Linked DNA regions of Homo sapiens: region 2 is linked to region 1. The links come from fine-mapping of genetic effects on gene expression. A gene starts in region 1. The other region holds a variant in brackets. All regions are shown on one strand. Distances are from middle to middle. Region 1 holds the start of CNOT6L (CCR4-NOT transcription complex subunit 6 like). Region 2 has its middle 97 kb from the start of CXCL13.

The links. PIP is the estimated chance that this variant, and not a neighbour inherited with it, causes the effect.
Region 2: its variant is fine-mapped to the expression of CNOT6L in unexposed skin (GTEx, PIP 0.95).

What each region holds. Positions count from the first base shown.
Region 1 is chr4:77,811,744-77,827,756 of GRCh38, forward strand. It overlaps CNOT6L (CCR4-NOT transcription complex subunit 6 like), which reads right to left and starts at 7,625. Exons shown (of 12, transcript NM_144571.3): 1 at 7,561-7,625. The coding sequence starts at 7,565. RefSeq lists silencers at 6,922-7,321, 7,402-7,471, 7,962-8,061, 8,102-8,261, 8,522-8,671 and an enhancer at 10,115-10,164.
Region 2 is chr4:77,694,472-77,710,484 of GRCh38, forward strand. No RefSeq gene overlaps it. Among named protein-coding and RNA genes, the nearest start is that of CXCL13, 97 kb to the left of the region's middle. The variant A/C (reference allele first, on the strand shown) is at 6,092.

The DNA.
Region 1 (16,013 bases):
AAACAAACACTCAACAATCTAGGAAATGAACTTCCTCAACCTGATAAAGGCTATTAATGAAAAACTTATAGCTCACTACTTTCCGCACACTGCCTGCCTATGGGCTAGCCTTTCTCCGCAAGGAGCAGTTTAAAAAAAAAAAAAAAAAAAATCACAGCTAACATCTACTTAATGGCAGAAGATGGAATGTTTTCCCCCTAAGACTGGGAACAAGACAAGGATTGCTGCAACTCAAGTGACTTCTCTTGACATTTCTTTTCAGTAATGTTCTGGAGGTTCTATCCAGGGCAATTAAGCAAGAAAAGGAACTAAAATGCATCCATATTGGAAAAGCAGAATTGAAACTTCATTTGTTTGCAGGTGACATGATATTTGTATGTAGAAAATCTTATGGAATCCACTTAAAAACTATTAGAACTGGCCGGGTGCAGTGACTCACACCTGTAATCCCTGCACTTTGGGAGGCTGAGGCAGGTGGATCACGAGGTCGGCAAGACCAGCCTGGCCAACACAGTGAAACCCCATCTCTACTAAAAATACAGAAATTAGCCAGGCATGGTGGCAGGCACCTGTAATCCCAGCTGCTCAGGAAGCTGAGGCTGGAGAATCACTTGAACCCAGGAGGCAGAGGTTGTAGTGAGCCAAGACAGTGCCATTGCACTCCAGCCTGGGCGACAGAGTGAGACTCCATCTCAAAAAAAAAAGAAAAAAAAAACTATTAGAACTAAGAAATTCAGCAAGGTTGGAGGATACGAGATCAACAAACATAAATCAAGTGTATTTTTATGCACTTGTCATGCAAAAACCCCCCAAATTTTTTTTAATTCCATTTACAATATCATCTGGAAGAATAAAATACTTGGGAAGAAATGCAGCAACAGAAGTATGAAACTTATATTCTGAAAACTATGAAACACTGTTGACACTTAAAGACGATCTAAATAAATAGAAAAACATCCCATGTTCATGGACAGGAAGCCCTAATATTCAGATGGCAATGGTCCCAAAATTGATGTACAGATTTAACACAATCCCCATCAAAATTCCAGCTGACTTCTTTGCAGAAACTGACAAGCTGATCCTAAAATTGATATGGAAACACAAGAGATTCAAATAGCCAAAACAATCTTGAAAAAGAAAAAAAGAGTTTTTCATTTTTTCTTCTCAAAAGGAAAAACTTTGAGAGGTTTGAGGACTCAGACCTCTCAATTACAAAGCTACAGTAGTCAAGACCATACTAGTATAAGGATAAACATATAAATCAATGAAATAGAATTAAAAGTCCAGAAATAAATCCTCCACACTTACAGTTAATTAATTTTGGACAGGGGTGATGATACAATTCAATGGAGAAAGAACAGTCTTTTCAATAAATGGTACTGGGGCAACTAAGTACCCACAGGCAAAGAGATATTAGACTTCTACAACAGACCATGTACAGAAATTAATTCAAAATGGATCAAAGATCTAAATGTAAGAGTTAAGGCTATAAAACTCTCAGGACAAAACAGGGAAGTAAATATCTGTGGCCTTAGATTAGATATATTAGATAGATTAGAAATAGATTAGATATAGATTAGAAATAGATATATTAGATAGATTAGCTAGATTAGAAACAAGAAGTCATTATTTCTTAGATACGACACCAAAAGCACAGCAAAAATAATAACAAGAATTTCACTTCATCAAGCTAAAAACGTTTGTGCCTCAAATGACACCATCAGGAAAATGAAAAGACAACTCACAAAATGGAGGAAAATATTTGCAAATCATATATAAGGGACACATCTAGAGTATAAAAAAGACTCTTACAACTCAATAATTAAAAAACTCATTATAAAAATGGGCAAAGAATTTGAGTCTTTTCACACACTTCTCTCCAAAGAGGATATACAAATGTCCAACAGCACATAAAAAGCATCATTAGCCATCAGGGAAATGCAAATCAAAACCAGGATCAAATCACACCTGCTAGAAGAACTATGATGAAAAAAGGAGATAATAACAATTGTTGGCATGAAGTGGATAAATTAGAGCTCTCATACACTGCTGATGGAAATGTAAAATACTGCGACTGCTTTGGAAAGCAGTCTAGAAGTTCCTCAAAAGTTTAAACACAAAGTGGTATATGTTCCAGCAATTCCACTCTTAGGTACACACCCAAAAGAATTCAAAACATACATACATAAGAACTTGTACATGAATGTTCACAGCGGCATGATTTATAATGATAGCCAAAAAGTCTATGTCCATCAGCTCATGAATAAGATAAATGTGGTGTATTCTTATGCTGACATACTATTCAGCCATTACAAGAATGAAATACTTGCTATGACACGGATGAACCGTGAAAACACGGTAAGTGAAATATGCTTATCATAAACGACCATATATTAAGATTGCATTTGTACAAAATGTCCAAAATTGGCCAAATCTATAGAGAAAGGAAGTAGTAATTGCCTAGAACTAGGGGCATAAGAGAATGAAGGGTGACTCTTGAAAGATACAGGATTTATATTTTAGGTAATGAAAATGTTCTAAAATTAACTATGGTGATGGTTGCACAATTGTTAATATACTAAAAACTACTGAGTTGTACAATTTAAATGGATACTTCTAAGGTATCTAAATTATACCTCATAAAAGTTGTCCAAAAAAAAGCAACCCTTTAAGTAATTCCTGACCCAATTGACATTCCATTTTATGTCTCAGAATGTCTATAAACAGTTTATATCATATTGACTTGCACTAGTTCATTTGTTTTGAAATAACTAAATTACATGCTTTATTTCCCTTACTCACAAACTATAAGCCTCTACATCTTTCATACTTCTCTTTAGAACTGGGTACAATAATAGGTGCACAGTGGGTCCTCAGATTAGGTTTTCAATTTTCAAGATGCAAGATGTTAGAGAAGTATTTACCATGGAGAAGTTAACCAGACTATTCCAAAATCTTCCCTTTGGGAAATAAAGAGATTATATATAACTCCCCAGAGATCCCTAACCAAACTCTTAGAATAAAAAATAAGTAAAGGTGACACAGAGCTGAAGTTTCACATTATAATAAACCTGCACAATCATAGAATAAATTGTGATTCAATTAAAGTTGTCCAGTGATAAAATACCATTTACTGTATTAGAGGTCCAGTGTCAGTGCAGTTAGTAAAAGAAAGTTGTAGTATTTTCATCACAAAGCATGAGCACAAATTAATAATTAAGCCTCTGTTGTTTACTTGATGATTTTATTGGTCTTTCTGGGTTAAGGCTCACATGTATTAATTTTAATAACTTTAGAATTATAAAAACTGCAGCAACAAACAAGAGAATATGGTAAGGTCCACCTAAATGAGATTTCCCTCAAAGTATAAAGTAATCTTCATCACCTATCCCAATAACAGAGGAAGAAAATTCAAAAAATGTGTTTCCTATGAAACTATACCCAGAAACTGAAATTCAGAGTTTTGTCCTACTGATCTGAACTGATTTCAAAATACAAAGAGAAATAACTCAAACTGCCAGAACTCATTAAAGCACAATGACAATCAATAACTGGATACTACAGGAGAGACCCACTAAAGGTTACAGAATCCAACTGTAATGTTCTCTGAAAAATTTATATCTTTAAATAGTTACAGAAACTCACTTGTCATTTAAGCCCCTCAGTGATGAGAGCTTCCCCCTCCCACTCCTGTGACTCTTCCCTCCTTTCTCCTCTCCCCACCACTCTCCACTCACACCCAATTTTACTCTTTGAAGATGGAAAGCAATTCCTAACTATCATAATTCACCTTTTGGATGTAATTTCATAAATATATGCTAACATCTAAAATAACACCATGAAATGCCCCTTGTAGCAGAGATGGCCAAGCTTTCCACCTGCCAGGGACATTTCCCACTCCCCTTGCATTCAAATAAGACTCTGTGACAAATCTTGCCAATAAAATTTGGAGGAATGTTTGTCATTTAAGTCTGGAGTTTCTTAAGAAATGGTCTTCAGGCAATAGGGAGGACTCCAAGGCCCTAAGAAATGGTGGAGTCACAAGATCTAAGTTGTATGAGTCCCTAAACAACATAAGAGGAAAGCCACAAGAAACCTGCTAACCAGGAGCACCTGCACTGGAACTGTCATGAAAGCAAGTAAACTGTCATGAAAGCAAGTAAACATCTGCACTGGAACTGTCATGAAAGCAAGTAAACTTCTTTGAAATTTTGGAATGTATTTATTACTCTGATTAGCATTACCCAAAGTAATACATACAGAAATTCCTAAGTATTCCAATTCTCCCAAATTAAAGACATTAATAACAGATATTTTGGAAAGATTGCTTAAAAGCCCATTTAAGTAACATTAACTTTTAAAATCTAAACAAGTTTCCACCTTGATTTTGTTGTAACATAATTCCTTTAGTCTAAATAATAACCTTAGTACTTCCACTTCATATCCAAATATCTTTATAGTTCAATATCATCTGTTTTCATGATTACTACAGGGAAATGTTCTTCCCAATTCTCCCAAATTAAAAAATATATATATAAAGTCTTTTAAAATAATTCATAAAGTCCAATGAAAATTACTTTACCAAATACTAAATAAGAGCAGATTCATTTCTATTTCTTTGTTTCTAAGGTATTAAAAAGTATCATTTATAGTTTTAAGGTAAGAATTATTCCTTTAAATATAACCACATGGCAGAAGATTCTGTTCAATGTAAATACACACTCCCACAACACACACTTTAAGAAAATCACAATTTGCATTCTAATAGTTGCCCCTAGTTATTTATAAAAATTCAAGCCCCTCAATGATGAGAGCTTCCCCCTCCCCATCCTGTGACTCTTACCTTCACAGAAATTTTTATATAAAAATATGCATAAAAGCTATACTGAATGTGTTGAAATTTTAGTTTGAATTTTAGAAAATAATATTTTTTAAAGCTTATCATTATTGATACAAATAAATTACGTAAGCCCTACTGGGAAACCCGGCATTTGTAAATAGGGCCATGACAAACTTAAACCAATCAAACTCCCACATTCTCTGTCCTGTCTTTTCCCAAAACAAAAAGAAAACAATCTTTATGTTAACTTTTCTGTTATCTTTACCTTAAATTCCATACCTCTCCATGACATTATTTTTTCCACACAGCAGTTAAAATTTAATGAACACATTTCCTACTCCAGAGAAAATACTAAAAATGGAAAGTTATTGAAAATTAAGTGGACAGAGGATTTTACCTTATATTCAGAGAAATATTCTAAGAAGTTTTATTTACCAAATCAGTCAACATGAGCTAGCATTTTTCGTAGCATTTAAACTTTGGGGATCTATCTAAATTTTGGTTCCTTGATCCTTTTTAATGTTTAACTGTATTGAAACATACATGTGCTATATAGAGGTTGAAAATTTTTTTCCAGGGCTACAAAACGAAAATCATAAAGAATAATGAAACTGAGAGATGGTCTATTTGAAAATATGAAAAAAAAATTAAGTATGACTATTTTTATAAATAACTAGGCTATTTTAATGACTATTTTTATTATTAGAAAAAAACTTCTTATATACATTAAAGTTTATATATATACCTTTTGTATACTGAAGGGCTCTGAAAGATTCCATTGTCTTTTTTACGTTATAGTTACTTAATATTGCTCTAAATAATTAATCATATTTGTGTTTGCAAAGGTTCTTCAATGCCCATAGTCAGGGCTGCAGGAGGCAGAACTAAAATTTAACTAAGCATCTACTACATGCCAAACATATGTTTTCTCATTCTATTCTCAAAACGACCTTACTATAAAGGTATTAGCTCTCTGTGACTGATAAAACTGTGGCTTATAGATATGTTACCTAAGGTCAAACAGCTAAGGAAAAATCACACAGCTGGGAGGCTAACTGAAGTCTGTAAAACAAGTCCTTTTCCCACTAACTACGTATGTTAAATTGTTTTTCCAGTAGTGGTAATAGAGAACAGCTCTTCGCCCCTCCTTCTCTTCCCTCCACTTCCCCGTGAACAGCATACACTATTTCTTTGTGAGACCAGGTGCAAAGAGCAATCTCTGGCCATGACACAGAGTACGGCCTACAAGGATCGAAACTGTATTATGCTTTTATCCACAGCACGGTTCTAGCTAAATGATCTAACTACATACAAATGTAATGAGGTTGGAGTAGAAAAGCACATTAGCAAATAATTATCCAAATGCCATTTGTATTTGGTTCTGAAATGTACTGTAGACCTATTGGCAGCAGGTTTATCTTTACAACTGGGTTTTGCTTAGGCTATTCTCAAAATAGCTTTCCAGCAGCACATACTGAGTAGACAACAGAGGTTGCTTGATCTAGTTTTTGGAGACTGAGGAAAACATGTTTGTTGAGCCTATCTTGATTGACAAGATAACTAGAGGCAATACGGTAAAATGTAACACTGTGCTTCCAATGTGTACAAACGGCTCAGCTAAACTCCCTGAACACAATCCACCTAAACAGTCTAAGCTCAATAGCCGACCGAGTTAAGCAGGATGACAGCTCCAGTAACTTCCTCTTCCTCACCCAGCTCCTCAGCTCGGCGGCGCGTACACGCCTCTCCCCCTAGGAGGCAGGATAAAACAATTTCAAATGCACAAAATCCATCCAATCCCACAGGCCAGGAAAGCCAGTTTCCCTTTCTTCCTCAGCCCTTCCAAGAAAATGTTTGTCTAATTAAAAAAAAAAAAATCTTACCAACGGCAAAGTATTTGCAACAAAAATCCAAAATATTTACTCAGTCCCTCCACACAGCCTTAGGGGAAGGATGAAAAGAAGGGAACACGACACCGCGTATTCCCAAGACTGACTGTTCTGATTCACTTTCCTCCCTCGGGTCCCACAGCCGGCCGGGCGAAGGCTTGCAGTTGGAACGCCAAAATAAGCCTTCGCCTCTCAGGAGACGCGGAGGCGGCCACGGCGACGGCAATCGGCGAGTCCCGCCTCCGACCCTCACCTGCCCAGGCCCGAGGCAGCGCCGTGGGCTCGCGCGGGCTCGCCGTCCCGGGAGGCGTCCGGGGAGGTGGGCGGGCGCCCAGGCAGTTAGGCCGCGCTGCAGGCCGGCGCGCTTCCTGCCGCGGCCGGGGAACGGCGGCCCCGGGATCAGCGGCGCGGCACCGACCAGCAGCTCTCCCAGCCCCGCTGCCGCGCGTGTGCCGCACTCACTCAGCCCTCCCCGGCCGGCCCCCTAGGAGCAGCTCTCACCTGCGAGGCTCGGGAGCCGCAGCCACAAAGCGGGAGGGACACGCCACTCTGGGGTCCCGGCCCCGGGCCACCCCCGACACACACACACACACACACACACACCCCGGAACCTTCGCCCGCCTCTGAAGAGACGCGGGTCAGCCCCGCCGCCCCCTCCAGTCACCCGACACACACCCACTCGCCGTGGGTCCTCGGGCCGCCTCCCCGCCCGCCAAAGTCCCAACTCGCACACCCACACGCACATTTGTCCCTCTCCCACCTCATTTCCCCGGGGACGCGCTCCTCTTCCCAACACTCTCGGTCCTACTCGGAGGCAAAAGAACACTCTACCTCATTCTCTTCCTCTGGCCCAGAAGCAACAGCAGCCATTTCCCCGCGGCAGGGGAAACACACACACAAACACGCGCGCGCGCGCGCACCAGGCCCCCACAGATGCTTCCCCTCCAGAGCCGCGGCCGCAGACGCAGACGCAAACACAAACACCCACGGCGGGCCTCGCTCCCGCCCGCCCCGAGGGGAAGCCGCGGCGGCACACAGGGCCCGTAACCGGGGCTCGCGGGCGGGCGCGCAGGGAACCCGGGCCCGGGGTCTCGGGGGGCCCGCGCCCCCTCCTCACCTGCATTCAGCGCGCCGGGGTCCGGGCGGCGGCGGCGGCGGCGGCGACGGGGCGGCTGGTGCTGGTGCTGCGGCGGCGGGGGAGGCGGCGGCGGCGGTGGCGGCGGGGCTGAGGGCAGCAAAGACATGCAGGCAGCCCGCCGGAGGGGAGAGGCACCGGCCGGAGGGGATGCGGGGCGGGCGGGCCGGGCCGGGCCGCCTGACGAACGGCAGAGGCGGCGGCGCGGAAGGCGGCTGAAGGGAGCGAGGAGACAGACCGGGGGTCGGGAAGGGGGACGAGGGCCGCGCCGCCGGGCTTCGAGGACAGTGACCCCAGGCGCGCAAGAGAGGCCCCGCGGCCGCGGCCGCCGGCGCGAAGGCCCCAGCCGAAGGAAGCTGCGCCCCCGCAGGGCCGGAGCCGCGGCTACTGCTCCGAGAGCCACGCAGAGCCTGGCCTTGGCCTTGGCCTCCTGGTGCTGGGGCTGCCGCCGCTGCGGGGGTTGCCGCTGCGCCGGGTGCTGCTGGGGCCGAGGTTGAACAGAGACGCCAGCTTTCGGTGCCTTCGCTCCCGCTCACACACGTTCACACCCCCGAGGGCCGGGGGAGAGGCGTCCGGGCGATATCGGTATTGAGATTAATAACAAGGTGCAGAGAGTGCGAGAACGAGGAGGGTTGATTGACGTGGAGGGGCTGGCGGGAGTCAGTCACTCCCCGGCGCGGAGGGTTGGGGTGAGGGGAAGGAGGCGGGGCGGTGACGGGGCGGAGCTCCTACGCAGCGCCTTGGCCCCGCCCCCCGTGCGCCGCGTTTTGTCGCGGTGAGCGCGCGGAGGCCCGGGCTTCTTAATGGTTTTCTGTTTTGCTCTGGCTGTTTTCTCACTCTTTTTTCCTGGCCTGAGCGAGGAGCGGGGCTGAGAAGAGTGGTAGAGTTTCAGAAACCCACATCCACAGAGCCTTGGCGAAGAGACGGGAAACCGCCTCACCCCGGGTTCTTGTGTGGGCGCTGTTTACTGCACCCTCCTCGCCCGAGGCGACCTGACAGCGAAGCAGAGCGTAGGTCTAGGTGGCTGAGACGCCAGGGGAGGTGAAGTGACCGAAGGAAATGTTTCCTGACATATTCGGTGGATTTTTTTTAAAAACATATAGCATCTGTAAGTTGTATCGTCAAAGGTAAATAAAAGAACCTGTGACGCTCAGCGATAACCCGGTCCTATTTTCTAATTCTCCCTTCTCGTTGTAGACTTTAGTTTGTTGTTTGTAGCTTATCCATGCCATCTACAGAATGAAAACATCCAAATGCAAACTAGAAATAGTAGTGTTTACTTGGTGAACCTGGCTGTGATACTTTAAGTTTCTGGGGTTTGTTTTTGTTTTTGTGGGCCAGCTTCAGCTTTTTTGGGCCAGCAGTCCAAAAAGCAAATTACACCGGCTGTGGAGGCAGAGTACTGCTGTTGCAGTTTTGCACAATTTTAATCTCTTTCTCAATGCATGCCCGGGCTCGTGTATTTACCAGTGTTGGTCAAGGGTATATTAGCAATGTTCAGTATTTTTTCCCCCACAGGAGTGTTTAGCACACTAAGCACGTTGCGTTGGTTGCAATTCATCTTAGGCCTTATTACTGAATGTAAAATGCCTTCATCTCTTGGGGGAAAAGGTGCGGTGAAAATGCAAATCATCATTTAGCTAAAACTGAACAGCTGTTACAAGAGTCCATAATTGCAGAACTATTGCACCACTTTCATCTTGGCACCAGGATGGGTGAATGAGTGAGTAAAAAAGCCCCTCAGTTCACAAGACGACAGACTATTTTCTTTTCTACCTATGTTAATTTTCCATTTCCCTCCCTAGCAACACCAGCCCCACACCATCTTCTGTGAAACATGTCAAAATGGCCTTAAGCCTGGAAGAAGTCTCACTCTTTCCCAACTATCTAAGAGTCTAGGCTGACATAAAATGAATAATTATCTTTGGCTTTGTAAGCAGCAAAGCCAAGCAAGTCACTTCAGGAGTCCAAATAGTGGACCTGCCTCAATGGCATCTTGCCACAGTATTTCTCCGTAGCACACAAACACTCTCCCAGGGAGAAATACCACCAATTATAGAAGGAAAGAGGAAAATAAATACCTGAAAAAATGTAAATCAGATAATGTGATAGCCTCACAGATTTAAGCATCTTTAAATAACAATAAATTTATATGAATTTTCTGTGAGTATTCAATGAATTTTCATTCATATACAATAAACACATATGGAGGGCATATTATGTTCCAGATGCTATGTTTAGCATTGGAGACACACAGCCAAGCATATATAGTCCCTTTTCTTAAGTAACTCACTATCATTGTAGGGGAAGCTGACACATAAACAGGAAATTCTCACAGAACAAACCAGAAATGAAAGTATGAGAGGTGACACAAAATTAATAGTCACAACAATGTCTAGGAGGATGGGCTGACAGCACTGGCATTTACACGTGAGCCATTTGACATCTGCCCACTCTCACAGGCTGCCTAGCAGTAGTGACAGGTGGGGAAAAATGACAGGGCCATTGTGGATGTTAAAGAAGCACTAATAAATGGTGGACTTTGGTGGTCCTGAAGGTCAACTTTATATATGGGATGTTCTTTGTTGGCCTCTAAATTTTAAGTAGTAAATGCATCACAATCCATGGTGGGGAGGGGTAATTGTAACTTTCAGAGTTAATAGTGGACAGTGGATGTTGTCATAGGATCATTTATTTTAATGCAGGTTAAGTTTAGAATTTACTCTCAAAGATGTCCTCTTTATACCATATCAAATTGATTGACTCACTAAAAACAAAAGGAAAGCAATACTTTTATATGTTAACTATATTATCCAAAAAATAGATTGCTGTTTTTCTCATTTGCAATTAGAATGACATTGGAGAAATAATAGTTTTCAGATAGTTGGCACTATACAAATGCCAAGAAATTGTCTTCAGTGAGATTAAAAAACAAACAGGCCAGGCGCAGTGGCTCAGGCCTGTAATCCCAGCACTTTGAGAGGCCCAGGCGGGTGGTGGATCACCTGAGGTCGGGAGTTTGAGACCAGCCTGACCAACATGGTGAAACCCCATCTCTGCTAAAAATACAAAATCAGTTGGGTGTGGTGGCACACGCCTGTAATCCTAGCTACTCAGGAGCCTGAGGCAGGAGAATCACTTGAACCTGGGAGGCAGAGTTTGCAGTGAGCCGAGATCTAGCCATTGCACTCCAGCCTGGGCAACAAGAGGGAAACTCTGTCTCAAAAAAAAAAAATAGTTCCTCATAAGATTCCGCTTCAAAAGACACCCCAGAAACGACAACAAATGAGTAGCACTTTAGCCATTGTTAAGAAGCAGTTTACGGGAGGCTGAGGCAGGAGAATTGCATGAACCCGGGAGGCAGAGCTTGCAGTGTGCCAAGATTGTGCCACTGCACTCCAGCCTGGGTGACAGAGTGAGACTCTGTCTCAAAAAAAAAAAAAAAAAAAAAAGAAATTTTATAGTGGATCAAAGTTTGCTACAGAGAGTAACCTGCTTTCGATATCTCATTTCTGAGGATTTTTCACGTTTGTCAGTTATTGCAGTTTTTAAGATTAGAAATAATGCAATAGGAAAATAGGTGGGTGTGGTGTCTCACTCCTGTAATCCAACATTTTGGGAGGCCGAGGCAGGCTAATCACTTGAGGTCAGGGGTTCGAGACCAGCCTGAAAACTCATCTCTACTAAAAATACAAAAATTAGCCCGGTGTGGTGGCAGGCACCTGTAATCCCAGGTACTCAGGAGGCTGCGGCAGGAGCATTGCTTGAATCCTGGAGGAGGAGGTTGCAGTGAGCCGAGGTGGTGCCACTGCACTCCAGCCTGGGTGACAGAGTGAGACTCCATCTCAAAAAAAAAAAAAAAATCTCTTTAAAGAAATGATTTATCCAATTGAAGCTTCTGGCTTAAGTGTGGCCTTTTTGACCAAATTGGTTTAGTAGCAGCAGTATATAGGTACAATTTGTTCTGAAACAACAATTATGTTTATTTGTATTATTAGAGAATTGGTTTATTCCTACTCAATGAAAGAAAAAGGTGCTTCATGTTCTAGAGACCACCTGTGTCTTTTCCAAATTCGCAATTAATGTTTGAGCTGAATAAATATTCCTATCTCTCCGTGTTTTGTTGGTAACACAGGTAGCGGGTCCTATAAGGTCCCTTATAACTGTTCTTTTGTCTCTTTTCTGAAATTCTGTTGAGCAGCTTATTCAAAAGACAAAGATTTCAATTTTTTTATTTAAGAAATTAGTACTATTTGGCCAGGTGTGGTGGGGCTCATGCCTGTAATCCCAGCACTTTGGGAGGCTGAGGCAGGCGGATCACTTGAGGTCTGGAGTTTGAGACCAGCCTGGCCAACATGGTGAAACCTCATCTCTACTAAAATATAAAAATTAGTCTGGCGTGGTGGTGTGTGCCTATAGTCTCAGCCACTCGGGAGGCTGAGGCAGGAGAATCACTTGAACCTGGGAGGCAGAGGTTGCAGTGAGCCGAGATCACGCCACTGCACTCCAGCCTGGGCAACAGAGTGAGACTCCATCTCAAAAAAAAGAAAAAGAAAATTAGTACTATTTGATAATCTATTAAATTTGATTTTTGGGGGGGGTGGGGGACAGAGTTTTGCTCTTGTTGCCCAGACTAAAGTGCAATGGCACTATCTCAGCGCACCTCAACCTCTGCCTCCCAAGTTCAAGCAATTCTCCTGCCACAGCCTCCCAAGTAGCTGGCATTAGAGGCATGCACCACCACACCTGGCTAATTTTGTATTTTTAGTAGAGATGAGGTTTCTTCATATTGGTCAGGCTGGTCTCAAAACCTCAAGTGATCTGCCTGTCTTGGCCTCCCAAAGTGCTGGGATTATAGGTGTGAGCCACTGCGCCTGGCAAATTTGATTTTATTTAATACATACTTTCATACTAATAGCCACATAACAATAAAAATGTCACATTTAAGTGTATTCAGTAAGGTATAATTAGTAACAAATATATTTTACATCATATTTATTAATAAAAAATAACTTTAAAGCAAGTATTAATCAAGATAATCATGAATTTTTACTTCCTGGACCTCCTGACAGGGCCTTCAAACTATATTTCAGTGACATAGTCTTACTTTTACTGAACTACAATCTTCCCCATCTTCCTATCTTGTACATATTTATTCCCCTTTCTCCCTCCCTCCCTCCCTCCTCTGTCTCTCCCATCTCCCACTTATTCTTATATTTCTTACCATCTACTGTGGGCATACTCGTCCAAGACACGTGGCTTTTCTCATTGCCTCTGCCCCTTTCTGGGGTCTTCAACTCTCTTTCCATCAATCTCCTACTTGTTCCTTTCTCTGGAGTGGCTGTGGATGGATGACACCAAGGATCATTCCCACTATCTTAGCCAAAGATGAACATTTTTCACCATTATTAATAGTGTGCCATGTGATCCATCAGTTCTCCATAAAATGATAAAGTAAGCCGAGTTCATCTTTGAACTTTGAAGGCAGATGTCCTACCTCCCCTTTCTACACTTCCCAGCTCAAGTCCCTTGATCCTGAATACATTAGAATCTCCACCTCAACCCCACCAGTTAACACCACACTCCTATATTCCCAAAATTGTTTTACTAGGCGAGCACCACCACCACCAATAAATATCCAGTGCTTCATTTTGTCTACGCCTTGGAGGTGACTGGCATGCTTTCCAATTAATAAAATCTATTACAATCAGCCCTCTATAGCTGTGGTTTCCACATTCCATGGATTCCATACCCTTGGTTTCAACCAACCTAGGATCAAAAATACTCAGAAAAACAAGTGGATGGTTATGTCTCTACTGAACATGTATAGATACTTATTTCTTGTCATTACCCCATAAACAAAGTATAACAACTATTCACATAACATTTACATTATATTAGGTGTTACAAGTAATCTAGAGACGATTTAAAGTATGTGGAAGGATATGCTTAGGTTATATGCAAATATATGCCATTTTATATAAGGGACTTATGGATCCATGGATTTTGGTATGAGGGGGTCCAGAAACTATCCACCAAGGATACTGAGGGATAACTATTTTAAAGCTGTACTCCAAGCATCTTCTTGAGGTTTTCAAAGGTATGTTTCAGAAGCTACATAGAGTACACAAAAGGAACCAGGTAGATGGGTCCTGAACAAGAAAGCCTGTGTTTTATCTCTTAATATATTGACCATCTATTTGTCTGCCCAGTAACCTTTTTCTTTGAACAATGCTCTCTGTCTTTGGGGAAACTATTTCTACCTGCACCATGATCGGTAATTCTAGTGCAGCTACAGCTCAAAGAATCCCCCAACTTCTTGGCTACAATGGTGGACATAGGACTCAAGTCAAAGCAAGCAGAGTTCTTCCCCAGGATGTTTTCAGGTGGAACTAAGGGGAGAAGGGCTATTCCACCATAGCAGTAGAGCCCAGAAGGAAGTCAGAACGGTCAATGGCCTTGTGTAGAATGAAGCCACCACTCAAATGAGAAATGTAAAGAACAATTCCTGCCGGTGCACCAGTCTCAGGTTCTGGTGATCCCTGAGGTCCCAGCTGCACCTTTTCACATAATATAGCTAAATTAACTGGTAAATTCTCTTCTACATCCAAACTAACTTGAGTTAGACCTCTGCAACCAAAACATCTGAATACATTGTGTTTCTGCATGAGAGTTCTTTCAAAGAAAGAACTCTTGAACTTTCAATAAGTTCTTTCAAAGAAAGAACTCTCGAACGTTCAATAAGTTCTTTCAAACTTATTGCTGCCCAATAAGTTTGAAAATCACTGAACTAAACTAAGTCGTTATGATTGGTGGAATCGTAGTCTACCAAACGTTGAAGATCACTTGGTCCTACTTCTGCATTTTCCACATGAGGAATCTGAGGCAAAATGACTTGCTGAATGAACATCACCCAGGCAGTCAGTGTTAGAAACTGGTCTCTGGATACCTAGTTCATTTGTTCTCTTTATTAAGCTTCTCTGTTTAATTCCTCCCAAAGGTATTTTTATGAGGTAATTATTTAGAAATAAACCTTAACCTAAAAGAATAAATCAAAACAACGGCAATTTCAGACACTGACTACATAGTGGGAAGATACTTGGTGGCATGGAGGCCATAATGGATCCCTTTTCCTCTTTGAGCCCCTCAAACTTTGAGCCCCTTTTTCATATTGGACCCAAACAAACTTTAAATCTTAGATGATCACATCTACAGGTCTTAACTACCATCTTTATGCTTACAACTCCCAAATATACATCTTCAATCCAGAGTTCTCATCACACATTTAGATCTATACTGTCAATTTCCTCCTGGATATCTCCACCTAGACAGGCTATACACATTGCAAGATATATATGTCTAAAACTGAGCTCATTGTCTTTTCCCCAAAATTGATTCTTGGTCTTGCATGACCCTCTGTTATTAAAAATGGTACTATCACGCTAAAAATCATGTAATCATATGAATAGTCACCTAATGCAGAATCCTAGGAGTAATCCTTAACTTTTCTCTCCCAGCCTCACCAAGATCTACCAATTCTGCCTACTAAATATTTTCATTAATCTAGCCCCTTCATCCTAATGCACTCCAGAGTTATAAGTCAGCCTGTCAGCTCTTGCCTGAGCTTTTTGCATTTTGTCTATTGTTTTAGTATCCTAAGTATAATCCTAACATCCTCCTAAAACATACCCTGTTCATATTAATTACTCTGCTCTTTAAATGACTTTACATAATTTATAAAATAAAGCCTAACTTCACAAGCATATATGTTCCTTAATGATTTGCCCTTCTCTTACCACCACCACCTGCAGCCATTTAACCACCAGCTTTTCTCTCTCTCACCCTTGCCTTTAATGAACCACCTGTCACTTCTTAAACAGGATGTGCTCTTTTAGATATCTTTGCACATGCAAAGTATAGTATCTTTCCTCAGCATAGTATGCTGTTTCCCATTTTGTCCTTTTCTTAAAATCATCCTTCAAGATTCACCTCAAGCATCACTTCCTCTGTGAAGCTTTTTCTAAAAACCCTGCTATGTACTCCCTTAACAGGCTGTGCCCAACTCTCTTACAGTAAGTGTGGTTAAATTAACCAGCAAATTCTCTTTTAGATCTAATCTGAGTTAGATCTCTCCAAAACATCTGAACTA
Region 2 (16,013 bases), 120 kb before region 1:
TTTTTCATGAACAGTCATTCCTAGATATACTCAGGCTATTGGTTCCAGGACCTCCTTTAATACCAAAATGTGAGCATACTCAAGTCCCACAGTCAGCCCTGTGGAACCCACAAAATTCACATATAAGTAGAACTGCATAGTTCAAACCAGGATTGTTAAGGATCAACTGTATCCTGTTGGCCATTTGTATGTCTTCTTTTGAGAAACATATGACCCAACAATTCCACTTCTAGGCATATACTCAACAAAAATGAGTATATATGCACCCCCCAAATGGTACAACAGTATTCATAATGACATTTTTCATAATAGCCCAGAACTGGAAATAAATAGTAGAAATGTAGTAGAATGGCTACATACATTGTAGCATTCCCACAAAGGAATACTTTATAGCAAAGAAAAGAAATAAACTCCTGCCATATGCAACATGGGTGAATTTCACAAATATAATATTAAGGAAAAGGAGCCAGAAGCAAGAAAAATACATAATGTATGATTCCATTTATATGAAGTTCAAAAGTAGGCAGCACTACAAGATGGTGCCTGGTGCCAGGATAACAATTCCCCTTGGGGAGGGGGTGTATATAACAGTGGGAGAATGGGTGCTATCAATGTTCTATCTTTTGATCCAAGGTTGTTCATTGAGCTCTATACTTATAATTTATGCAGTTTTATGTGAAGTAGGTGAATTACACTTCAATAGGGTGTTTACTAAGAAATAAGACAAGGTACTTCCTTTAATAAAAAGAAAGTTAGTAGTTACTATATAAAGACTACACCCAAAGAAACCAACTTAAGATATGCAGCTTCAGAATTCAGGGCTAACATATCCCCCAGTGAAACATGACTTTTCATTTAGAGCAAACTTCTACATTATTTCGTTCATTTTCAATTCCAAGTGCTCTTTGCATGTACAAAAATGAAGTGAGAACTGTCGATGTGTTGGCTCCATTAGCAGAAGAACTTTTCAAAGTGTTAAATGATGCCAGTTTTATATCTAAGTCTTCAGATGCTTCAAAGAGAAAGTCAGTTAGGTTAAGTCCAATAATAGCTCATTGTTTTCATCTGCTGCAGCAAATTGAGGTTTGAAGTTCACTCTGACAAAAGTGAAATAGTTCTCATCATTGTGAATGCTATTGTAACTTCAGTTTAAAATGTCAATATTAAAGATAAATTTACTTGGTTTTTGTAGCTGTAATATTTTGAACTAATGTACATAAGTATATGATACTTTATTGCAAAGAGTTTTAAAATAGAACTATAAGATAGTTCTATTACAGACCAATGTAACAATGCCAATATGTTACACAGTTAATACATTCAAAAAATTACATAATTTTTATTATTTTAACCTCCCTCTTTCAAAGGTGTCCCAGTTAAGTTACATGTTAAATATAAGTTAAGTTATGTGGTCTCCCTATTCATGACAAATAGCTGAATCACCCTTCCTTTCTCTAGCAAGCCATCCCAACACTCCTCCCTTCCCTACTCCAGACAGAATGAATCACTCAAAGCCCTATGATGTGGTAAATCTGCCTGAGGTGGGGGGTGATGGAAAGAACATTCAAACTTCCACAGCTTTGCTTACGCTTTTTTCAGTTTGAAATGTACACAGCCTATGTGGGGAACTAGTCCATCAGTTGTGCAGGATAATGAAGCGTAAAAGAGTAGGAATGAGGTGAAGTTGGAGAGCAAAATCTTTCAAAATCTGGCCCCAACCAAAAAGTTGGAAGTTTATCCTCTAGTCGATGGAAAAGTCTAAAAAGTTTCCACCAAAGGGAGTGACAAGATCCCATTTACACCTTTAGGAAGATTGTTCTAAGACTGCAAGGGATAAATTGGCAAGGACAAAGACTAGAAGCAAGATCAGTTGGTTTAACTCAGCAAGTGTCATCTGTGTTTCTGCAAAAAATAAAATTCTTAAGGAAAGAGTAAAAGGGAAAAGAAGAGATTTTTCGAGGCAGAATTAAGAGGATTTGGTGACAGATAGGTAATGGGATTAATTAAAAAGCAAATGTAAATCACTTAGCTTAGGGCCCAGCCCATAGTAGACATCCAATAAATATTCATTTCCCTACCTCTTAAAAGTGCATATACTTTACAACGAGTGTGTTTTTCTGTTCTTTGGTTGCTGGAATAACTATGGCCCATATTCTTTTTTTAACTAAATAATATATTTTCATCTGGGAAAAAAAAACTTAAATACAATGAAAATTGGAACAACCACTTTGGAGAATTTTTGGTAATATTTGGCAAAAATTGGCAGTTTGAGTAAAGTCAAAGATACTAATACTCCAAGACCCTGCAAGTCCACTTGTGGCTATAACCCATACTGAAACTCTTACATGTATGAGAGTCTTATGCATAAGGATGCTCATTGCAGCATCGTTCATAATTACAGAAAACTGGAACCAATGAAAACATCTATGAAAAGGAAAATGAGTAAATGAGCTGCAGAATATTCATATAATGTAATAGTATACCACACTTACCAGCATGGATAAATCTCGATAACATATTAAGCAACACGAAAAAAAAGTTGCAGAGGGATATAGTATGACACCATTTAAATTAAGTTTAAAAACCTGTTAAAATATTATCTAATAAGGGAAAAGTCTATACAAGAGGGGTACATAGGAGGTCTTAATTGTATGTGACATTTAATTTCTATTTTTCCTTATTGAAACATTTTTATTGTATTCTCTTGTTGGAAGGGGAAGATAGGGACAGATAAGATGAATAGAATATGACATTGACATTTAATTTCTTTGAAAAAAAAGTATGGAGTAATGTTAGGATTTAATAGGGGTGCATTTTCTGGTGTTCATGACAAGGTTATTTTTATTCATACATAAAACATTTTGCAATAAAATGAAAAGAATAATGCAGTAGAATAGTCAGATGTCTATTCTCCTCTATGCTTCAGAATAATACTGTGCCCAGTATTTGCTAAAGGCTTCAGGATAGACATTGGGTCACATCTTTAACCTTGAATTATCTCCACAGAAACAGCAACCACCTTGGTGCACTAGACAGAGAGATGGGTGTGGGTGCTCTTTTTGGCTCTAACCTTGAGCAATTCAATAATTGTTTCTGTAACCTTGTGCAATTCATTTCACTCTTGCCCTCAACTCCCTCAAATCCAGAGATCCAATCAATACAGCTAAGGTGACAGCCTGAATCTTACAGCAAATCTTAAAAATAATACCAGGGGTAGCAACCATGTATCACTGTCCCAGAGCCTCATGTAAGCATTTTCACTAGGAGGATTAAATGAGACAGTGCATTCATGTTCTGTTGTCCCTAATCTATACATCAGGAAACAGGCTTAAAGAAGTTAACTAACTTGCCAATGACACACAGATAGAGCAGGGTTTTTAACCCAGATGTCACTTTCTGATTCCAAAGCCCATGCACGGTCTTAACCAGACCGACCAGAGGACTCTTGCTACGTCAGATCCTTACTGTTAGTGAGTATCCCTTTTAATGTTCTGACTAGGATGGCCATGTAACTTATCCTGAAAACTGAGATACTTTGAGTGTAAAAGAGGGCACTAATAATTACTCTGGGACCACAGGCATAAACCAGGACTGTCCCAGGCTAACTAGAATACATAGTCACCATAGTAATGAGACTCTGGCAAACACATTCCAGCAGGCTTTTCAGATATATCACACAAGCACAATGGTTTTCTAGTAGTAAACAAGCCGATTGATTTAGATTCCCAGTTTAAGGTTCTGTTAGCACGAGAAGTCCTCTTAACCCAGCTGGCAGAAATAGACGGCACAAGGAGTGCCTTCCAACAGCGTCTGCCCATAGCTGTTGCCCACAGAGGAACACAGCAGCTGCTCCAAAGTCTTTCCAGGGCTTAGCCCTTATCGCCCTATTCACATTCAGGAGCATGGAGTTTCTATTTCCTCCCTTGCTGAAGCATTTAAAAAAATCTGTCTGCAAAGAAGCATTCACTCCTGAAAAACTTTGATATAAGAATGGGACGATGTTGCCCTCTGGTGTTACCAAGGAAGTGGCAAGCAGCTACACAGACTCGGTCAGGGCAAGGGTGAAGGCAAGGGAAAGCAGAACACTAGCTCTTACCAAGCAAGTGTATGAACATGTCTTCCTCCTTAATCCTTACGACAACTTTGCAAAGTCCATCCTTATATTCCTCATTTTTATAGATAAGGAAACCGCTCAGAGAATGAGTACTGTGTTCAAGGTCACACAGCGAGAAAATGTATTGAAATTTGAACCCATATCTATCTAGCATTAAAGTCTATGGTCTTTCCTTATATCATTCTATAGGCCAATATAAAAACTGGGGTCTTCAAATATTCAAAATATATTTATTGAATACCCATTTATGCCAGAAATCGAATATGAGGAAAGACTGACTTATTCCATAAAGAAATTTCAGGTTAGGCTTGGCACGGTGGGTCACACCTGTAATCCCAGCTCTTTGGGAGGCCAAGGCTGGCAGATCACTTGAGGTCAGGAGTTCGAAACCAGCCTGGCCAACATGGCGAAACCCTGTCTCTACTAAAAATACAAAAATTATCCAGGCATGGTGGCGCACACTTGTAATCCCAGCTTCCTGGGAGGCTGAGACATGAGAATCGCTTGAACCCTGGAGGCAGAGGTTGCAGTGAGTGGAGATCGTGCCACCATACTCCAGCCTGGGCAACTCTGTCAAAAAAAAAAAAAAAAAAAGAAGGAAACCTCAGAGTACTTTAAAATGAACATGTATGAGGGATAGACTAGTCACTCAGTGCCTGTGATTATGTGATCACTTTCACGTGTAATGCCCTCCTACATCTTTGTAATATTTGCCTACATCCTTTGGAAACATTCACTGTTTTCTTCACCAGTCCTGGTCTCTCTCTTGTTTTTGACCCTCCTGCCACTTTCTCGGTAGCAGTTTTCTTAGTCACCTTGTATTACAGTCATGGGTTTATCTAATTCCTCTGTTCATCACCCTTGTATTATATAATAAACTACCTGAGAGCTGAGATGGGTGTTTCACATTTTTAAATTTCAAACCTCCGTAATACCCTTTCACAGTGCTTCACTAAGAATAGACCCTCAAGGTGTTTGCAGAATTTGGACTGCATTAGATATCAGCTACTTGATGAGATTTTAATTCCAAGAGGCTAATTTTTTTTTCCAACTTGGTAGCATCCCATTGTGTCCTCTTACAGGGCCAATTAGCCATGTTAAACGTCTAATAGCCTGGCAGGATCAGAGCTCTCCCAACTCACATCCCTATACTGGTGAAAGCATAAGACAACGAACCCTGGAACTGGGAAATGGGCTGGTGGTACGGCCTCTCTCTGCATCTCCAGAGTGGAGGCTGTAGGGGCAGTGTTCTGCTATGCTTGTTTCTGTCTCCTTTCATTCCCCCATTCCCCTCTATATTTGGTAGTTATTCTGTTCTACCCTAGCACTTTCTACCCTCTCATTCAACTGCTCCCTTAAATAGAACCTTTCTGCTTTTTCCTTTCCCTAAATGGCTTTCACTGATTCTGACTCTGGCGAGTCCTCTGTTTTCAGGGAAATGTGGCTAACCTCCTGACCTGTAATTCTGCTACACAACAGCTGTCTTCCCACAGGCCATATATTAACCCTGTTTAAGCAACTCTTTAAATTCCTGACATGCTCAGTCAGCAGCAGCATTAGCAGCAGCACCATCTGCTAGGAGTTTAACCCTCTTGCTCCCTGGACTTGAATGGTGGAGGTAGATTAGAAACTCAAGCTTCCACATGTAGCTTGGTAAGTCACACGTTACCTAAATGCTCCCCTGTAATTCCACTGATTCTAAACATTAGCAAAGTAAGTTTTGATATTAAAAAGGAAAAATTCTAGTACATTTATGTTTCAGTGATATACAATAGGAAAATATTAGAAACAACTTAAATATCCAATAAATACAAAATTAAGCCATATAATAGCACAACCAAATCATTTTGAATGGCTTCATAATATTCTGTGGTTTTGACATATATGTGTTAACCTGGAAAAATACTTAAGTGAGAAAAAAACAGAATATAAGAAATAATTTACAAGTAGTAACCTTCTTGATGTACTTTTATCCAA[A/C]CATTTTTTTTCCTACGTATATATTTTTTAAAAGATAGGAAAACAACTGCTATTAGTTTAGAAGACATTTCCAGATATTTATAGTAGTAACAAGTCAATGCCAATATAATACTCTGCTCTAGGTACAGCATGTTAACAACATAAACCCACAGCCAACGGGTAGCCTAAACAATTTTATTGCTTCCACCAGCTCCTGTAACTCTTTCTTCTATTAGCAATTCTTCAATGCCACCCCCATAAAAAATCAACCCTTTTATTTCCCTCTCTTCTGCCCTCTCTTTCTTCCCAAAGTCATCTCAGACTCTTTTCTTGGCACCTCTTTGAGTCACAGATAAGGGGAATAGAACAGCAGAATAGAGCAAATACTTCTCCCATTTTATCTTTTCACCAGGGCTCTCCTCCCTATGTCCCTGAAAGTACACAGGTCACTGTCACTAAAGAAAAACTGGTGGCCCCTGAATACACAATTCCATTGGAAGGTGACAGTCCTACCACTGTAGTTTCAGACAGGCAAGATCATAATTTTGTATAATAATTGCCTAATTCCAGAAAATGGGCACAAAAATATTGTTTGCTTCCCAAAACCATAATGGAGGTTACTCTCAGGCCTTTGCCATACATGCTAAAAAAAAATTCTTATTTCTTTTTCTGGCATTTATTTTCAGCATATGGTGATAGTTGCTGAGAGCCCACGTGACCTAACACTTGTCCCACCAGACAGCTGAGTATTTTTACTGATGGACACTGGCATCTACTTGGAGGAGCCTCTTTAATATGTATTTAGGCAGCAGGTGTTCAAAACACAGTTCAGTCCTGTTATACAAAGAGCCATTTCCAGTCATTCCATTTGTATTCAGAACGTAATCAGATCAAGGAATAACTCTAGATAATATTAGAGAAAAAGGGAGGACAATTATAGGTTCATAACTCTGCCCATCCACTGTAGCTTGGAATTTGGGAAGAGTACAGAGGAGAGGTGCAGATTCAATTAATTTCTTGATAAGTTTTCCATTTTATGAGTTCCCACACTTGATTATATAGCAATACCCTATTCCCTTATAGCACAAACACACATGTATACCACCATGTCACCATGGATTAAGTTCCTGAATATCTACAAGATGAAAGAAGTTGAATTTGGGAAACTTAAGAGCCTAACGCATAAACAGGAATGAGAGACTGAGATTAGTGGTGAACTTATGTCAGTTCCATAAAATTAATAAAACTATAAAAGAGCACAGTAAATAGACTGTTGATAGCCTTTTGTGCAACTTAAATTAGTAATAATGGGTCTGTACTGAATAAAATGGAGAGGAGAAAGATAGGAGTTCTCAAGTCCTAGTGGTCTTGACTGATCTTTCTTTCCATGGCTCCTCAAACTTTAAACTAGTCTTGATTGGAATCTTTTACTCACCCCACCTAAGAAACACAAGAGGAGGAACAAGACTAATGATGAACGATTCATTTAGTTTCAAAGATAGTGAAATTAGGTGTGCCCAAGAATTTCCCAAGAGGCAGTTAGAAATAGAGAACTAAAAGAGATTAGGAGTGGAGACAGACATTAGGGAGTCATCTAAATAGGAATAATGGATGGAAAAAATGAAAAGGAAAGAAAGCAAGTAGGGCTGATGCTTGAAATAATTCAAGACCAGTGGACAGAGAAAATGAACAAGATATAAATTATTTTTCCTACATTATCTTCAAATCTTCTGAAGTTTCACAGAAGCCAAGAGAACAGAGACTTTTCAAAAGAAATGGATGCTTATCATGGCTGAGCATTATAGAAAGGTAGAGGAAAAAAAGGACCAAGATCATTAATTTGATATCTGGGAATAGACAGTCCATCTCTGGTTTCTGGATTCATTACTCCACTAAAATGCGTCTCTCCAGGTAAAGAGAGTTTAAAGACTAAGTGTATGATGAGGGAAACAAAGGACAAGGGTAGACTCCTCCCTTTCCTTCAGTATCAAACTATTTCCCTTCTTTCAAGGTGAGAGGGTAATGGAATCAAACTTTCTGCAGAATAAAAGAGGCTCAATTATGTTAAGAGTTGAGCTGTTGTTCAGTTATGCCAAATAAGTAAATTGGTCCAGATAAGAAAATTAGAAGTTACATTTCTTCTAGTCCTAGTTTATTTATATATATCATACACATACTTGATAAAAACATTTTTTAAACATTAAAACTTCAAAATAGAATTTCAGAAACCTTCTGTCCATTACTTTTAAACCATCACTGGCCTAACTTTTTTTTTCCTTAATGCTATATTATGACCATTTTTCTTGGTCCATAAACACATATTATGCCTGCTTAGGTTTTCCAACATACAGGTATACCTTAATTTACTAAAACAGCCCTGGAGACAGGTCTGTCTCCAAATTCCTTCAGTTATAATTTAACTCTTTGAAACTTTGAAGACATTTTTGATTAATGAATACGAACATAAGTATCTGAATGAAAATGAAAACTGAAGATCCTATAATTCTAAACGGCAGAGTTGGGAGGCTAATTAGTGGTCGTCTAGCCTGATCATCAACAGAAAGCATATTTTCTTCTGTGGTTGTCCAGAAGTAATAGCAAAAAAGTCTCTACGTGGTCAATTTTTAAACAATTCCAATAATTTAGAAACTCTCCCATTTATTATTCTGTGTGACTTTAAGGGAATAAAAGTAAGAACAAAAAGTGGCTATTACAGAAAGACTTATTAATGCCTCTCCCATATAACAATATTAAGTATTTGAAGGGCTGTCATATTTGTCTCCTTTAATTAATTCAATAAACTTTTATTGAGGACTCTGTGCAAAGATGAACCAAAAAACTGCTCCACCCTCCAAAAATGGGTAGTTGCAAAAACCTTCAGTATCCTCTCACCTCCCTAACTTACCCTGTGAATTTCCCAATGGCTCTCTGTCTTTTTTTTTTGTACCCCCTTCTCCCCCCAGAAAAAGTATGCCTGGAGACTGGCCTGCATTAGGATAGTAGAGGAAACATTCATCTTTTGCCTTATTCACATTTAATCTAGTATTCAGTGTCATATAGTTTGTAAGGGGTGAGTTTGCAGACTCAAATGTTTGCAGTAATTAACCAAAGACATCCCCTTAGTACTAATTTACATTATCATGTAAAATGGAGAAACTGGTCATGTGGATATCATTCAAGACTCTTCAGAAACAATTGCTTGGTCACTTGTGTTGGGGAGAAACCCAGTCTGGAGGGTTAAAAGTAGCAGCACATTCTCATGCTGTCAGCCCCTCTAGCAAATCTTTCTTCCTTCCACTGGGAAAAAAGTGGAAGATGTTCCAGGGATCATTGGATCAATGCCTGAATCTAACTTCCTGACCACAGGGTAGAGAATTCACATATTCAAAATATGAAGCCCTTTTTTTCCCCTGAAAGCGTGGTATAGGATGTAAAATATCTAAACTCAAGCTTTCTGAATTTACCTGACTTTCCATAGGTACAGCTCAAAACTATTAAGGGAATAAATAAAAAGTTGGGCAAGTGCATTTTTGGTTTAAAATGGGACTCTTAAAGCAGAAGGGAGTTTCCTTCCCCCTCCCCCACAAAGAATATTTTATAGATGTGAAAATACTAAGAGATTAAAGTTTCAGCAGAAATAAATATCTCAAAGGAGGCACCATACTATTTCCTTTCCATATGTTTAGTACCTCATTTTCACACATCGTTTGTAGTCTCCTAAGTTTAGACAAATCATCTTGGCTATGTAGTTGCAAATCACTAAAGAGAGCCAAGCTCATAGAAGGGAAAATGTATGTTGTTCTTTGGGTTTCTGAATAAGGAAAGTACTTAGGTAGAATCTTATTTAAAAGCTTGCTATTTTAAGTAATTTCATGCCTCTCATAAGATGGTATGTATAATAACTTCACCTATATACTGTATAAAAAATAGGTACTAACCCTAATCAGAACTAATGCTAGAACTACACAAGATTTCTCTAGCATTCATGCTGTTACTACTAACAACATACATAATATATATGATATGGCCATATATTTGCAAGCTTCTCTGAAGTACCATATCATCTCTAGGACTCTATCCACAGCACATAGTGTGTACGTAACTGAGAATGGGATATGCTTCTTGTGCTGGTCATTTGCCTGATTGTTCTCAGATTCATTCTCATCCTTCCCTAATTCTCCTGTATCTGAAGGTGTACATTTCTCAGGCTCCTTTAACAACTGGCTTCTGAATAGGTTTGGCAAATGGGAAGCTTTAATGGATTACTTGAAGAAATACCCTGGAGAAGAGAAGCAGCCAGGGTATTTCTCCCTTTCTCTCTCTGCTTAGTGGCACCTCTGGCAGTGACTGTTTGGTGTTGGTTTTTGTTTTGTTTTGTTTTGTTTTTTTTGAGACAGAGTCTCGCTCTGTTGCCCAGGCTGGAGTGCAGTGGCATGATCTTGGCTCACTGCAAGCTCCACCTCCTGGGTTCATGCCATTCTCCTGCCTCAGCCTCCTGAACAGCTGGGACTACAGGTGCCCACCACCACACCCGGCTAATTTTTTGGATTTTTAGTAGAGATGGGGTTTCACCGTTTTAGCCAGGATGGTCTCGGTTTCCTGACCTCGTGATCCGCCTGCCTCGGCCTCCCAAAGTGCTGGGATTACAGGCATGAGCCACCGCGCCTGGCCTAGTGACTTTTTTCCATAACAGCAACTCCTTTGGGATAATTCTATGTATTTCCAGATCTCACAAGACAGCCACTGAGAAGTTCTAGCTCCTACTAGATGGTTCAGTTTCTGAGCTCTGAGAACACTATGTCTTCCCTTCTACCTCATCAGCCAAAATGGTGGTAGCACTTTCCTGCTTTTCCTAATTTCAGGATTCCTCAATATCTTCTCATTTGGCTTCACAACTCTTCTATTACCTGTGCAACAAGTCCCCTGCACTAAATGTCTTCTGTCTGCTATACACAGAGTGATTTCTGGTTTTCTGAGGGGCTTCTTACTGATACTCCACACAGAAGTCTAAGACTGTGTTGTCATTTTTGATCATGAATGCAGTGACGACCTCCTTACAGGCAAGAAATGGGACACTAGCAATTTGTGGTAGGCAGCGATATCATACTTAAACTATAAGCTGCAGTTTCTCAAGGCATGGTACAAGTTGAAGGCAAGACTTTGGTCAAGTAACTATTGCATTTGACTGTTATGATAGTAATAATAATAACAAGAATTATTACATAGGATGGATGTTTCTGACTGCCCTGAAGAGTATGCACAAAGAAAAAGATAAGCCTAAGGCCTTAAATTTTTTAACCCAAAAATCAAGCTATATAGCCACATTCCATACCTCCATCACCATAAGGCAGATGACTGAGTATCAGGCCCAAGGCTTGATAATGCATCATCAGTTACATGTGTAGTCCTATCAGGTATTTTATGCTGAGGTAAAGGACCTGGTTGGGAAGGAGTGGTACCCGAGACTTTGAAAGGGCAGACAGGGATGAGGTTCTGAATGCTGAATTCCCCTGAGCCTTCCTCTCCAGCAAAAGCAGCTTTCCTTTTGTCAGTTTTTCCATTTAACACCCGAACTGAGGCAAATAATCTTCACTTGCATAAAACCATTGCACGACTTCACTAGTGGCAGATGCCCTAGAAGAGGATGCTTATTCTTCCAGAGCCCATTCAAACCACCCATCGTTTCTAATCTCATAACAAGAGTTTGATCCAACATAGCCCAGATGAAAGTGAATGATCTGCTGCCATATGAAATAGCAAATACACCAAAGGAGCTGCAAAATGTTGTTAATTTATGTTAAATGTAGGGGACATGTATGAAAATATATTCTAAAGGACTATTCAAAAGGACGAAACAAAGGTTGGATCAGGCGGAATTTATTGAGATAGACATGTATACCTGGATTCAGGATTTCCTGTGGTGACTCACTCAAGCACCAGCGGTGGTATCAATCACCTGCTAGTTTAGTAGAATAAGGCCAGTAAGATATGAAGTAGAGATGTTGCTTGGCACACTGAAGAACAATGCTTTCAGACAGAAATAAAATACAAACCACAAATGTAATTTTAAATTTTCTAGCACCCACATTTTAATATGTTTTTAACAAATTATCTCAAGTGCTCAATAGCCGCTAACCATGAGGCTAGTGGCTGTAGTATTAGATAGCACAGTACAGGCAAAGGAGTCTGGAGAATTAGAAATCTGGAATGGATTCACAGCGTGCAAACTGCTTAACCACTGCCAACCATACCCTTGCTTTGAAGGATCCAGAGGACTCTCCTTTTACTAAGTTGTTAAGAAATGCACTGGTGAGGGAAGCATGCTCATATAAAGGACAGTTGCATCCTGTTATATAGCAGCATTAGCTTGTGGTTGTATCACAGTTTAAAATGGCTATAAGTGTGAGAATGGATGCTGAGTCGTAAAAACAGCATATGTACTAATCATTTGCTTGCTTTGTCTTGCATGCATTCCCCACTGTTCCTCTGTTCTGAATGTGTCAAGGAAGCAACGTTTTCTAGGCTTCTTTACCCATCACTTACGGTTAGGTTCAGCCAATGGGAGACCTGGAGGGAAACTGGAGGGAAGAGTGGAAGGAAAGCCAGGGAATTTCTTCTTTTCTTACTTCAGGTAGCATTTCCAGCAGAGCCTGAGCCTTCTCTGATCCCAGCCCTCAAAAGACAGCCCCTCCTTCTGTGATACCACCTCCTATGGACAGCCCTTGCCATGATTCTAACTCCTGACAGGCAAACCAGTTTCCTGTATCTGTTTGTTAGTGGCATCTCTTCCCAATATCTAGTGTCTTGAAGCTTACAGTGGCTTTTGGATGTTGCTAATTTCTGGTTTGCATCACCATCTACTATTTGACTTCATCTTTCCCTTGCCCATTTAACTGATTCACTGCATTATATTTATCTTGATTAACATAAGGTAGCTTCTGTTTATTCAATCAAACTCTGTTTAATGCAATCCCTTATTATAGACACCTCTAATCCATGGGAAAGAGATCACAAATCCCCACAAATTGATATACACTGATCTCTTAAATAAAGCCTACCTGTTTTTCCCTGATGTTTTACAGTTTTAAGTATTCAATACATCCTTATGATACACACACAAACATAGAACTTATATGCCAAGTATTACAGTTTTCTGTGGCAAGATTTTCTAAAATCTGGGAGCACTAATATTACCTGCCATGCGAAACCTGTTACTCTTTGCCACAGGATAGACGCTCCAGGAAACAGATTTTGAAGTAGAAACTAGAATTCAAGAAGTCCTTAAGACAGTTGTCAGGATCAAACTTGGGAAGTGAAAAAGCAATGTAGTCACAACAAAGGCCTTAGACATTTGCGTAAGGAGCTCTGGAGCTGGCCTGTCCCTTCAGAATTGCCAAATATTGATGCAAAGGGACTAAGCTTTAAGAACACCACCTTCACCAGTCACTGGCTGCAGACAGGAACCCTCCTCCCTGATGGGGCATGACCTTGGGCAAGACAGGGCTCCCTCCTCAGGGAAGACCTCAGCAGAAAGCCCCCAGCTTCCTGTATTGTTGAAAAAATATGAATGTTGGAGTCCTGAAGAGGACAATCAGAGCAATCACCATAGCTTCACCTTGGGACACTCAGAGCCACTTGTTTTGTATAATAGATTTCTCTCTTTTTTTTTTTTTTTTTTTTGAGACGGAGTCTCACTCTTGTTGCCCAGGCTGGAGTGCAATGGCGTGATCTTGGCTCACTGCAACTTCTGCCTCTCGGGTTCAAGCGAGTCTCCTGCCTCAGCCTCCTGAGTAGCTAGGATTGCAGGCACCCGCCATTATGCCCGGCTAATTTTTGTATTTCTGTAGAGATGGGGTTTCACCATGTTGGCCAGGCTGGTCGTGAACTCCTGACCTCAAGTGATCCGCCTGCCTCGGGCTCCCAAAGTGCTAGGATTACAGGTGTGAGCCACCACACCCCGCCTGTATAATTTCTGAAAGCACCTCCTCCCTCTTCCTGTGCCCCCACATCCCCCAGGGATACGTAGAAGGGAAAGGCTAGTGAGGTAACCTACAGCTTCTTCTGTTGTAGCTGTTCTGGGGCTACAACTGATATTCATCATCTCCTTCCATGACCCATTCACCTACGGCTTCTCTTCATCAATTAGCACCTCTGCTGGTCTTGTTGGTTGACCTAGTGGGCTAACCCAGAACCCAGTTACTGTGCTCTTTTCAAGCCATGATTCTTGTCCTTGTCAATTTAACAGCAAAATGGGACCAAAGAGTACCAAGAGTTGCCCATGCATACTGCTGGGTGCCAGATTTATTCCTCCCTGTCCCCACTGTATAACAGCAGCTCAACCTCTAACACCATAGGTCTGTAAGGTTCGACGGCCCAGTAGGAGGGGCTACTTTTCACTATAGTCTGGACATGCTGCAGAGCCCTTTCCTGTACCAACTCATGCCCAAGATTACATAGCTATTGAGTTACCAATCTTTCTGGGCCTCAGCTTCATCTGGAAAATTAAGAGAATCACAATACATATTTTATTATGTTGTTGTGACGATTAAATGAGTTTATATGAAGCATATAAACAGTGCCTGGCACATAACAAACCCTACAACAGCCAATTCTAAGTTTTATATTAACTTGCCATGATCTACAAATAAGGAATAAAAGTATATACAATGTGCTTAGAAAACACAGAACTATGCGTACATTTTTCTTTTTTTTTGAGACGGAGTCTCGCTCTGTCACCCAGGCTGGAGTGCAATGGTGCAATCTTGGCTCACTGCAACCTCCATCTCCCAGGTTCAAAAGATTCTCCTGCCTCAGCCTCCCAGTTAGCTGGAACTACAGAAATGCACCACCACGCTGGCTAATTTTTGTATTTTTAGTAGACAGGGTTTCGCCATGTTGGCCAGGCTAGTCTTGAACTCCTGACCTCAGGTGATCCAAATGCCTTGGCCTCCCAAAGTACTGGGATTACAGGCTTGAGCCATCATGCCCAGCCATTTAAATTTATTTCCATAAGAACTTTATCATTTGTAGTTAATTTTATGTATATTCCCTGGATTTGCTTCAAATGTTCAGAATCCTTCACTATTGTCATAAGAAAAGCTAAACTTGTATATGGGAGAGAGTTAACACCTAGGTAAGTGACCTTTGGCCAATAGGGTATTGGAGCCACTGGATATTCTCCTCTTTTACTCCTCCAGTGGACATTCTGAGGTGCATTTTATGTAGCTCCTCAGAAGGATCCTGCTAGGATCAAGCCTCAGTTGCCCACAGATGTGATCAGCTCAATAACTCACCACTAAATTGGCTTTCCTTTCCTATTTGACTCCTTGCAATCCCTATTCTTGTTTCTGAAGATCACATCCCAAAATAAATTACCTACAAGGAAGATCTCTCAGGCTCTGTCCTCCGGAGGAACTTAGTCTAGGACAATTAGTACCAGAAATAGCCCAAGGAAGCAAAGGCTTTAGATGGATTCTGGACCTGTATCACACTCTCTAGTCACTTCATTGCTGGTTGGTGAAGTGACTAGACAGTGCACTAGTGCACTTTCCTTAGTAGTGGGTTTGAAGTGCAAGTGGAAAGGAAACAGTGGCACTTAAACTGTTGGGGGCAACGATAAGTCTAAGGACTGTAAGGTTACCCAGTTTTCAAAATGGACTTTAGACACTTTGAAAAAAAGAAAATGACAGGCTCAAATTAGCTAACTATAAGTCAAGGCATACTGTGAAAGTCAGAATGCATCCATGGCAGTGTTTATAGACTATCATTTCAGCAGCCATGGGGCAAACAGTGCCAAAGGTCAGGCTCAGGATTTGCACAATAATAGCAGAGCCACAAAGAATACAGGCATCATCTTTGAGGTTGTGCATTCAAAGTGAGCCCTAAACCCTGGGCTGGGGATATTTGGGTAGAAAAGCTAGAGAAGATTGAATCCCCAGATATT